Regions from separate parts of the Homo sapiens genome. Here regions 2, 3 and 4 are each linked to region 1. Evidence: fine-mapped expression QTL. A gene starts in region 1. Each other region holds a variant in brackets. All regions are shown on one strand. Distances are between the middles of the regions.

Evidence for each region.
Region 2: its variant is fine-mapped to the expression of EMB in whole blood (TOPMed, PIP above 0.99).
Region 3: its variant is fine-mapped to the expression of EMB in whole blood (INTERVAL, PIP above 0.99).
Region 4: its variant is fine-mapped to the expression of EMB in whole blood (TOPMed, PIP above 0.99).

Annotation. Positions count from the first base shown.
Region 1 is chr5:50,440,281-50,442,890 of GRCh38, forward strand. It overlaps EMB (embigin), which reads right to left and starts at 1,008. Exons shown (of 9, transcript NM_198449.3): 1 at 760-1,008. The coding sequence starts at 871. RefSeq lists silencers at 552-741, 822-951.
Region 2 is chr5:50,480,520-50,483,129 of GRCh38, forward strand. No RefSeq gene overlaps it. Among named protein-coding and RNA genes, the nearest start is that of EMB, 41 kb to the left of the region's middle. The variant C/T (reference allele first, on the strand shown) is at 1,255.
Region 3 is chr5:50,630,910-50,633,519 of GRCh38, forward strand. It overlaps the pseudogene LOC202319. Among named protein-coding and RNA genes, the nearest start is that of PARP8, 34 kb to the right of the region's middle. The variant T/C (reference allele first, on the strand shown) is at 1,089.
Region 4 is chr5:50,388,910-50,391,519 of GRCh38, forward strand. No RefSeq gene overlaps it. Among named protein-coding and RNA genes, the nearest start is that of EMB, 51 kb to the right of the region's middle. The variant A/G (reference allele first, on the strand shown) is at 1,332.

The DNA.
Region 1 (2,610 bases):
CCCAGCACTTTGGGAGGCCGAAGCGGGCGGATCACCTCAGGTTGGGAGTTCGAGACCAGACTGACCAATGTGGAGAAGCCCAGTCTCTACTAAAAATATAAAATTAGCCCGGCGTGGTGGCGCATGCCTGTAATCCCAGCTACTCTGGAGGCTGACAGAGGAGAATCGCTTGAACCCGGGAGGAGGAGGTTGCGGTGAGCCGAGATCACGCCATTGCACTCCAGCCTGGGCAACAAGAGTAAAACTCCGTCTCAAAAAAAAAAAAAAAAAAAAAAAAAAAATCCTCAAAGCCAACCCACCTGCCAAGAGGAGGGAAGGAGGTGATACTCGAGCCTTACTCTCGAATCAAGAAAAGGGAGTAGGCCTTGGGGAAATGTGGCTTTCAAAATTCATGCCATATTTGCCCAAGCCAAGTCGCTAGCTGGTCCCTGCAACCACCCACACACCCCACTGCCTTCTTCCTAGGAAAAACCAGACTCTGCCCTGTTACCTACGCGCCCGACTCGCGGGGCGCTGTTCGTTCAAGACTCGCCCCAAAGAGCGCAGGAACGCGAGCCGCAGCAGTTTCAGGGTTCAGCTTAGGTGACACAAACGTAGCTAATGGGAGGCCGCCGCCGACTCTCCCACCCGCCCTTACCAGCATCCCCGCGCCTCTCCCCGCCACCCTTGCCCGGCGCGCCGGCGATGCCCTCTGCCCGCGGGGACCCGAGCCTCGCGCGCCCTCCGCCCTCCCTACCCTGGACCCTGTACCCATCACACCTGGGGCACTGCCGTCCGCCGAGCTTGGGCGCGCGGCAGCGAGAAGGCACTGGAGGAGGAGCAGCCGGGGCGTACGCGCCCTGGCCTCCAGCAGGCCGGGGAGGGCGCGCATGGCGCCAGAGGGTCCGCCTGGGTCCTCGTGGAGACTGCTCCCTCAGCTCGCCGCCGCGGGTGTCCAGAGTCCCTGCGCACACTCGCAGGTGGCCCGGCGCTCGCAGCCAGTGCCGCGGGTAGGACGCTGAAGAAAAGGCGGAATGGGAGGGGCCCGGCCGCCTTGCCCCACTCCCCCGAGACGCTCTTACCGCGCCCGGCCCTCCATCAGTTATGCAGCCCTCAGCCGGCTGCTGGCGTTCCCGGATGTGCGGTGGCGGTGCTACTTCCCGGCTGCAGCCTCTCCGGCCTCCGCCCTCTCGGCTCTAGCAGGTCGGGAGAGAGCTTGGGCAGGTGATGTCTAGCCAATCTCGTGGGGAGAGGTCGAAACTCTGCCTACAGACTGGCCTTTGCACTTCACCTGAGGCAGGTTTCACTAATTTGCTTTGATGGGACAGATGAGAAACACTTTTCTCCTCCCGGACCCCGGACATCTTTGGGCTTTCTTACGAGGGAGGCTTATTTTTGCGCAGGTGTAAGGTTTTATCCAGCTGCCAGACAACTTGTGTTAATCTTTCTTTGCTTTGCCTACCAATCACACACATTCTCTCTTCTAGTCTCTGAAGGCTTAACTGATTTTCTCCGGATGAAGGTTTTAGAGTCCCAAGGCCCCATACCGTGTCTGATTTTACTTTATTTTTGTTTGTTAAGCCTAACAGCTTCTGAGGAGCCACCTAGAGCTCAAGAAGCAAAAGCTACTGAGAGTAGATACTATGTAAACTGCACAAGACATTGACCTTTGTTAAATCCGAACACTCTTTAAGATAATGCTCTTACCCACAAGGCTGTAGCTTGGAATATTCAGTGCTCTGAACCAAATTAAATAAATTAGTGCTTTATCCGGGAGGGGAGGAGAAATCTATATTGTAACATTGAAACACATTGATTTGATTTCTCTCCAGGATGTTATAACGCATTAAAAGATATTTTTAAAATTTTTCACGAGCTTTGTTTCCTCTCCCTTTATTTTTTTGAAGTTCAGCTTTCACATTCGTAAATTCAAAATATATCGGCGTTAAAAAAAAAAGGATTGGAAATAACATGAGACAAATTTTGAAAATTGAGCTATTTAACAAAACCTGTGTTTATTCCAGGCAGGAATGGTTAATTTGTAATTGGTACGTATTACTAAAACACGTCTGTTTCTGGTTTAGTATTATATGCACAAAACTTTGGAAACAGAATGTAGATTCTTCAAATTGGCAGTGAGATAATATGAATAATACAATTCATTCAACAATATTATCTACCAGGTGCCAATCTACCATTGTGTTCAAAAGAGGCTAGATAGGCACACATGCACAAATGCACGCATGCACACATGTACACACACACACACACAAATTAGACAACTGTTTATCTGTGAATGACAAATCTCAGAAAAGCCTCTTCTCAGAAAATTATGGTCAAAATTATTAAAATCTTCTGAATGAAACTTTAAAAGATGCCTTCAAGGACTAAATCTTATACACTGTTGACCCTCTGAGGGCATTGACTGGGCTTGCTAAACCCAAATTGCCTAATCAATGGCTGCTACATCACACCTCTTTCTTTCAACCCTGCATCTGGTCTCAGGACTAACTGCACACATTTCCCTATAATTAGGTAGAGTGTCAACAGTAAGCACTTCTCACCTCAAACTAAACTCTGACTGACTTTTCCCAGTTAGTCTCATAAAATCCTTAGACACAAATTCACCCT
Region 2 (2,610 bases), 40 kb after region 1:
ATAAATTTATTTAACTAAAGTTGTGAAGGAAAAGTTAAAATTTTCTAAGATCCAATAAAATGGCAAGGTATTACAAGATGGAAAGTATTCAACATTACAAAGATGCCAAATCTCCCCAAGTAAATCTTTAAATTTAATACAATTTCTATTTAAATTCCAAAAGAATTTTATTATAAAAATTGATCTTAAAATATCTGTAAAATGTAAATCAAGACAATAACCAGGGAATTTTTGAAGAATATTGAAGGAGAATTTGTCCTACTAGATATCATAATATACTACATAGTTGTAATAACTTCAACAGTGTGATATAAGTACAAGAAAAAGCAAATAGTCTAATGAAAGAATAGAGAGAAAAAGAAGGCATATATACACACAAGAATTTGGCATATAGCAAATATCATATTTCAAAACAGTTAAAAAGAGTTAGATTATCCAATAAGTAGCTGTTTGTTTAAGAATCTATCTAGTTTGATAAGTAAATTTAGATGTTTCTCTTATACATTTATCAGACAATAAATTCTAATTCATTAGAGTTCTAAGGATAAAACTATAACATTGTTCAAATGCTATAGAAGAATTTTAAAGTTATTTTTGGTATAGAAAAGCCTTCATAGGCATAAAATTTAAGAATACAGAGGCCTGGCACAGTGGCTCATGCCTGTAATCCCAGCACTTTGGGAGGCTGAGGCAGGCAGATCACTTGAGATCAGGAGTTCAAGAACAGTCTGGCCAACATGGTAAAACCCCATCTCTACTAAAAATACAAAAATATCTGGGCATGTTGGTGGGCACCTGTAATCCCAGCTGCTCAGGAGGCTGAGGCAGGAGAATTGTTTGAACCTAGGAGGCAGAGGCTGCAGCCAGTGGAAATCGCACCATTGCATTCTAGCCTGGGTGACAGAGTGAGACTCCATCTCTAATAAATAAATACAGAAAAAGACTAAACTTTTTCATTACACAAAATTTAAAAGAAAGTTTATACATGTTGAAAGATGCCACAAAGTAACAACAAAATGCAGATTAGGAGAAAATATGTGCAATGTATCACTTACAAGGGGTTAATCAGCACAAAATATAAAATACCCACTTGAAAAAAAAATGTGAGATGCGGTGCCGTTGAAACAATACATAAATGAATTAAGGTTAGTCTTAAAAATTTGGATAATTAAGTAGTCTATTGCAATTTCATGGATCTCTTTGCTAGGTTCCAAACACCACAAATCTAATTTTATAACTACCATAATGAGCTCC[C/T]GTGTGAACCAGAAATAAAAGGACAAATAGACCCATCAGCAAAATCACTGGCACAAATACACCCAAAAAGTGACCCGTAAGTTCATTTGGATGATCGGGTCCATAGAAGAGCCAGGTGCAGAGCAAATGCTGTGGCACTTAGTATCTTCCAGATCTTTGAGGGGATGAATTATATTTTCCATCTGTTTGTGGCTCGGCAGGACTCCATAGCCAAGAAAAAAGAGTTCTATTGTCCTGGTGATGCTTTGAAAAGCATTTTGGAAATGCTGAGGCCTTTCTTGGAGAAACAAGGCAACAGCATAAGTTTGGGATAGGCCAGGGAAATGGTAATGAGGGTGAATGAGTTGGCCTCAAAAGCCCTGAGAGAATCTGGAGAAGTTTGTCACAATGAGGGAGTCAAGAAACACAGTCAAACAAAAACGCCTGAAGCAACATCTAGAACATGTCACCAAGCTCTCTGCCATTGAGGGATCCTCTCCAGGACGTCAATCAACTGGGCTGAGACAGCTCCGTTATCTGCAGGACCCAGTTTAAAATGTAAACGTGGGGCCCCTTATTCAAAAAGCACAAAAAAAGTTCCACTAAACGTATTAAACTATCAAGCTGTTACCTTTCTCCCACAGTCTCCGCATTGTTTTGTCATGTCTCTTTTATTTGCTATTTAATGTCATTCTAAGTGAAGAAGAAAATTTTGATTACTTCAAAGAATTTTACCATTCATCTTTGTATTGTGTAATACCACATTTAGATGCTGATATAAGAGCATTTAATTTATATGTATAATTACTGAAATTATACAATTTATATTTCATAGTTCATACATGCATGTGTATTTTCCTCTTACCAAATAAGAAGAAATTTTGCACCAAAGCAGTGCAACAGTTTTTATTTTACTTCTCGATACATGCACATTCTACCAACACTCTCTACCTTTTGCTACAGGCAAGTAAGGAAAGACTGAAAGGAAAAGGAACTATGGGCTGTCCTATTTTTCCCTTTCCTTCTGTGTCATCATTTTTTATGTAAGTGCTTGGCCAATATAAGAACACAACTTAATTAAGAAAGGGTGTGATAGGCTTCTTTGGTTATTCAGATATCATGAAAGGCCACTGCTTTCTTTCTGCATTTGAAGCAAGGTTGTGTTCAAAGGAATACACTGGCTCTAAAAGCTGTCAGTGTCCTGTTCCATCGCCCTCCTCTTACTCAGTCCCATATATAAAATGCTTACCTTTTATTTACTTTAAGTCTCACTGAATTCCCAAGCCTAGTGGTCCACTGAAATTCTGTGCATATGGCGCATTGCAAAGGCAATCTGCAAGTGGAGTGTCAATGAAGCACAGTGTACATGTGCCCTGA
Region 3 (2,610 bases), 190 kb after region 1:
ATTAGTGAGGGAAAAATTGAGCCTGATTTACAGAAGTCGCTGTACAACATCACAGCAACAGCCAAAAGTAGATTGCTTAGGCATTATAACCTACTTGAATGCAATTTTAAAAGAAATTCAGCCTATGTAATCAGTTGTCCACGATGTCTAGAAGGAGAGATATTACTGATTTATATGTGGCAGCTAAAAATTTGTCTAGGTAATTAGGGACTTGGGGCCAGGACTGGTGGCTCACACTTGTAATCCCAGAACTTTGGGAGGACAAGACAGGCGGATTGTCTGAGGTCAGGAGTTCGAAACCAGCCTGGCTAACATGGTGAAACTCCATCTTTACTAAAAATACAAAAATTAGCCAGGTGTGGTGGTGTGTGCCTGTAGTCCCAGCTACTCGAGAGGCTGAGGCGGGAGAATCTCTTGAATCCAGGAGGCAGAAGTTGCAGTGAGCCAAGATTGCACCACTGCACTCCAGCCTGGGCAACAAAGCGAAACTCCGTCTCAAAAAAAAAAAAAAAAAGATAATTAGGGACTTGGAAGGACAAAGATTGAAGGATTGGTGACAATGAGTTTTGGGGAAAAATACGTAGATGAACTACAGAAAATGAGCCAGAGTGTAAGAATATTTGTGCTTAATATGAATACTCACCAAACTATCATCAGGAAGGTTATCAAATAAATATGAAGGTATGAAACAACTTCTTTCACCAGGCACTACATTGCTTGCTCAGAAGGCTAATAAACAGCAACATTGGTGGTAGCAGTAGAGAATACATATAGGTTTAGCAACATGTTGGACTTTACCACTGTCCCTTACCAAAGCCTATTTAGCTGTCAAGACTATTAGGTGTCCAACACACAAGCAACAAGGACCAAGGCTAAGCACAAAATAACATATCCTGGGTGAAAAAAACAGTCACCTTTTGTCAGACTTGTTGATTTTACTGGAGCTCCTCTATGATAAAGGCAACAAGGAATGTTGTAAATGGAATCTAGCTTTATATCCTTGAATTACATTTGCTTGACCTGACATCATGTTTCTCTGATCACCACTCTCCGTGGGTACATTGAATGCTTTATACATACTGCCATAA[T/C]ATCCTGTTCTACATCCTTCTATTCAAAGAACTTGTTGTATAACAAATGAGTAGATATTCACTGCACTCACCTGGTCCACCATTTATCCTATCACTAACCAAAATTATTATTATTATAGAATGGCGAATATTTTATTAAAGACTCAATCACAGTGCCAGCTGGAGACAATGGCTTATAAGGTTGTACTCATGCCAGAGGATGTGGTGGTGTATCCTCTGAACTAGTAACTAAGTATAAGCTTGTCTGGTGTCTCCCATATAAAAAATACAACAATCTTTGATCTTTGTTATGAATGTTGAAGTGACTCCTTTTGTCATTACATCTAATGATCCACTCCAAATATTTGTCTCTTGTCTCTGAGATTCTAGGTTTTTGCAGAATTAGTACCCAAGGGGAGAGTCTCAACAGTATTTCATTTTACGATCCATCCTTTGTTAGAGGATGAAAGACTTCTAACTGGCCTTTTAGGTTGCCTGAGACCTTTAGACAAACAGTCAAAAATTTAAAATTTAAAATGTGGCACACTGTTGCATGGGGTAGTAAATCTTGACCTTAAAACTGGTATTTGTAAGAAAAACAGAAAGAATTCAGGGATCCCCTTTGATGGCTCTTAATTCTATACAGTCCTATAAATATTCATGAAGACTAGCCAGGCGTGGTGGTGCACACCTGTAATTCCAGCTACTCCAGAGGCTGAGGAAGAGAATGACTTGAACCTGGGAGGCGGAGGTTGCAGTGAGCTGAGATCATGCCACTTCACTCCAGCCTGGGTGACAGAGCAAGACTCTGTCTCAAAAAAAAAAAAAAAAAAAAGAAAAAATTAATGAAGACTAATTGCCAAAACTTGGAAGCAACCAAGATGTCCTTCAATAGGTGATTACATAAGCAAACTGTGGTATATTCATACAGTGGAATATTATTCAGTGCTAAAAGGAAAAAACTATCAAGCCACAAAAAGATACAGAAAAAACAAATATATTTTGCTAAGTGAAAGAAGCCAGTCTGAAAAGGGTACATACTGTGATTTCAACTATATGACATTCTGCAAAAGGCCAAACTATAAAGACAGTAAAAAGATCAGTGGTTATCTTTGCAGATGCCACCGTCGCTGGGAGCCCTGTACTATCAGCCATGGTCAAACCCATCGTGTTTTTTGACATCGCCGTCGACGCCAAGCCCTCGGGCCGCATCTCCATCAAACTGTTTGCAGACAAGATTCCAAAGACAGCAGAAAAGTTTCATGCTCTGAGCACTGGAGAGAAAGGATTTTGTTATAAGGGTTCCTGCTTTCACAGAATTATTCCAAGGTTTATGTGTCGGGGTGGTGACTTCACACACCATAATGGCACTGGTGGAGAAATTTCATGATGAGAACCTCATCCGAAAGCATACAGGTTCTGGCATCTTGTCCATGGCAAATGCTGGACCCAACACAAATGGTTCCCAGTTTTTCATCTGCACTGCCAAGACTGAGTGTTTGGATGGCAAGCATGTGGCCTTTGGCAAGGTGAAAGAACACAT
Region 4 (2,610 bases), 51 kb before region 1:
GGAGAAATAAAATCCTTTATAGACAAGCAAATGCAGAGACATTTTGTCACCACCAGGCCTGCCTTACATGAGCTCCTGAAGGAAGCACTAAACATGGAGAGGAACAACTGATCCAGCCACTGGAAAAACATACCGAATTGTAAAGACCACCGATGCTATGAAAAAACTGCATCAACTAACAGGCAAAATAACCAGCTAGCATCATAATGGCAGGATCAAATTCACACATAACAATACTAACAGTGTAAATGGGCTAAATGACCCAATTAAAAGACACAGACTGACAAACTGGATAGAGTCAAGACCCATTGGTGTGCTGTATCCAGGAGAGCCATCTCACATGCAGAGACACACATAGGCTCAAAATCAAGGGATGGAGGAATATTTACCAAGCAAATGGAAAGCAGAGGTTGCAATCCTAGTCTCAATAAAACAGACTTTAAACCAATCAACAAAGATCAAAAGAGACAAAGAAGGGCATTACATAATGGTAAAGGGATCAATGCAACAAGAAAAGCTAACTATCCTAAATACATATGCACCCAATACAGGGGTACTCAGATTCATAAAGCAAGTTCTCAGAGACCTACAAAGAGACTTAGACTCCCACACATTAATAGTGGGAGACTTTAACACCCCACTGTCAATATTAGACAGATCAATGAGACAGAAAATTAACAAGGATATCCAGGACTTCAACCAAGCTCTGGACCAAGCTGACCTAATAGATATCTACAGAACTCTCCACCCAAATCAACAGAATATACATTCTTCTCAACACTACATCGCAATTATTCTAAAATTGACCACAAAATTGGAAGTCAAACACTCCTCAGCAAATGCAAAATAACAGAAATCATAACAAACAGTCTCTCAGACCACAGTGCAATCAAACTAGAACTCAGGATTAAGAAACTCACTAAAAACCCCACAATTACATGGAAACTGTACAACCTACTCCTGAATGACTACTGGATAAATAACAAAATGAAGGCAGAAATAAGTATGTTCTTTGAAACCAATGACAACAAAGACACAACGTACCAGAATCTCTGGGACACATTTAAAGCGGTGTGGAGAGGGAAATTTATAGCACTAAATGCCCATGACAGAAAGCAGGAAAGATCTAAAATTGACACCCTGACATCACAATCAAAAGAACTAGAGAACCAAGAGCAAACAAATTCAAAAGCTAGCAGAAGACGAGAAATAACTAAGATCAGAGCAGAACTGAAGGAGAGACAAGAAAAACCCTTCAAAAAAAAAGCAATGAATCCAGGAGCTGGTTTTTTGAAAAGATCAACAAAATTGATAGACTGCTAGCAAGACCA[A/G]TAAAGAAGAAAAGAGAGAAGAATCAAATAGATGCAATAGAAAATGATAAAGGGGATACCACCACCAATCCCAAAGAAATACAAGCTACCATCAGAGAATACTATACACACCTCTATGCAAATAAACTAGAAAATCTAGAAGAAATTGATAAATTCCTCGACACATACACCCTCCCAAGACTAAACCAGGAAGAAGTTGAATCTCTGAATAGACCAATAACAGGTTCTGAAATTGACACAATAATTAATAGCTTACCAACCAAAAAAAGCCCAGGACCAGACAGATTCACAGCCAAATTCTACCAGAGGTACAAAGAGGAACTGGTAGCATTCCTTCTGAAACTATTCCAAACAATAGAAAAAGAAAGAATCCTCCCTAACTCATTTTATGAGGCCAGCATCATCCTGATACCAAAACCTGGCAGAGACACAACAAAAAAGAAAATTTCAGGCCAATATCCCCGATGAACATCTATGCGAAAATCCTCAATAAAATACTGACAAACCGAATCCAGCAGCACATCAAAAAGCACCACGATCAAGTCGGCTTCATCCCTGGGATGCAAGGCTGGTTCAACATATGCAAATTAATAAACACAATCCATCACATAAACAGAATCAATGATAAAAACCACATGATTATCTCAATAGATGCAGAAAAGGTCTTCAACAAAATTCAACACCCCTTCATGCTAAAAACTCTCAATAAACTAGGTACTGATGGAACATATCTACAAATAATAAGAGCTATTTATGCAAACCCACAGCCAAGATCATACTGAATGGGCAAAAACTGGAAGCATTCCCTTTGAAAACTGGCACAAGAAAAGAATGCCCTCTCTCACCACTCCTATTCAACATAGTATTGGAAGATCTGGCCACGGCAATCAGGCAAGAGAAAGAAAAAAGGGTATTCAATTAGGAAAAGAGGAAGTCAAATTGTCTCTGTTTGCAGATTACATGATTGTATATTTAGAAAGCCCTATTGTCTCAGCCCAAAATCTCCTTAAGCTGATAAGCAACTTCAGCAAAGGCTGAGGATACAAAATCAATGTGCAAAAATCACAAGCATTCCTATACACTAATTACAGACCAACAGAGAGCCAAATCATGAGTGAACTCCCATTCACAATTGCTACAAAGGGAATGAAATACCTAGGAATCCAACTTATAAGGGATGTGAAGGACCTCTTCAAGGAGAACTACAAACCACTGCTCAAGGAAATAAGAGTGGACACAAACAAATGGAAAAACATTCCATTTTCATGGATAGGAAGAA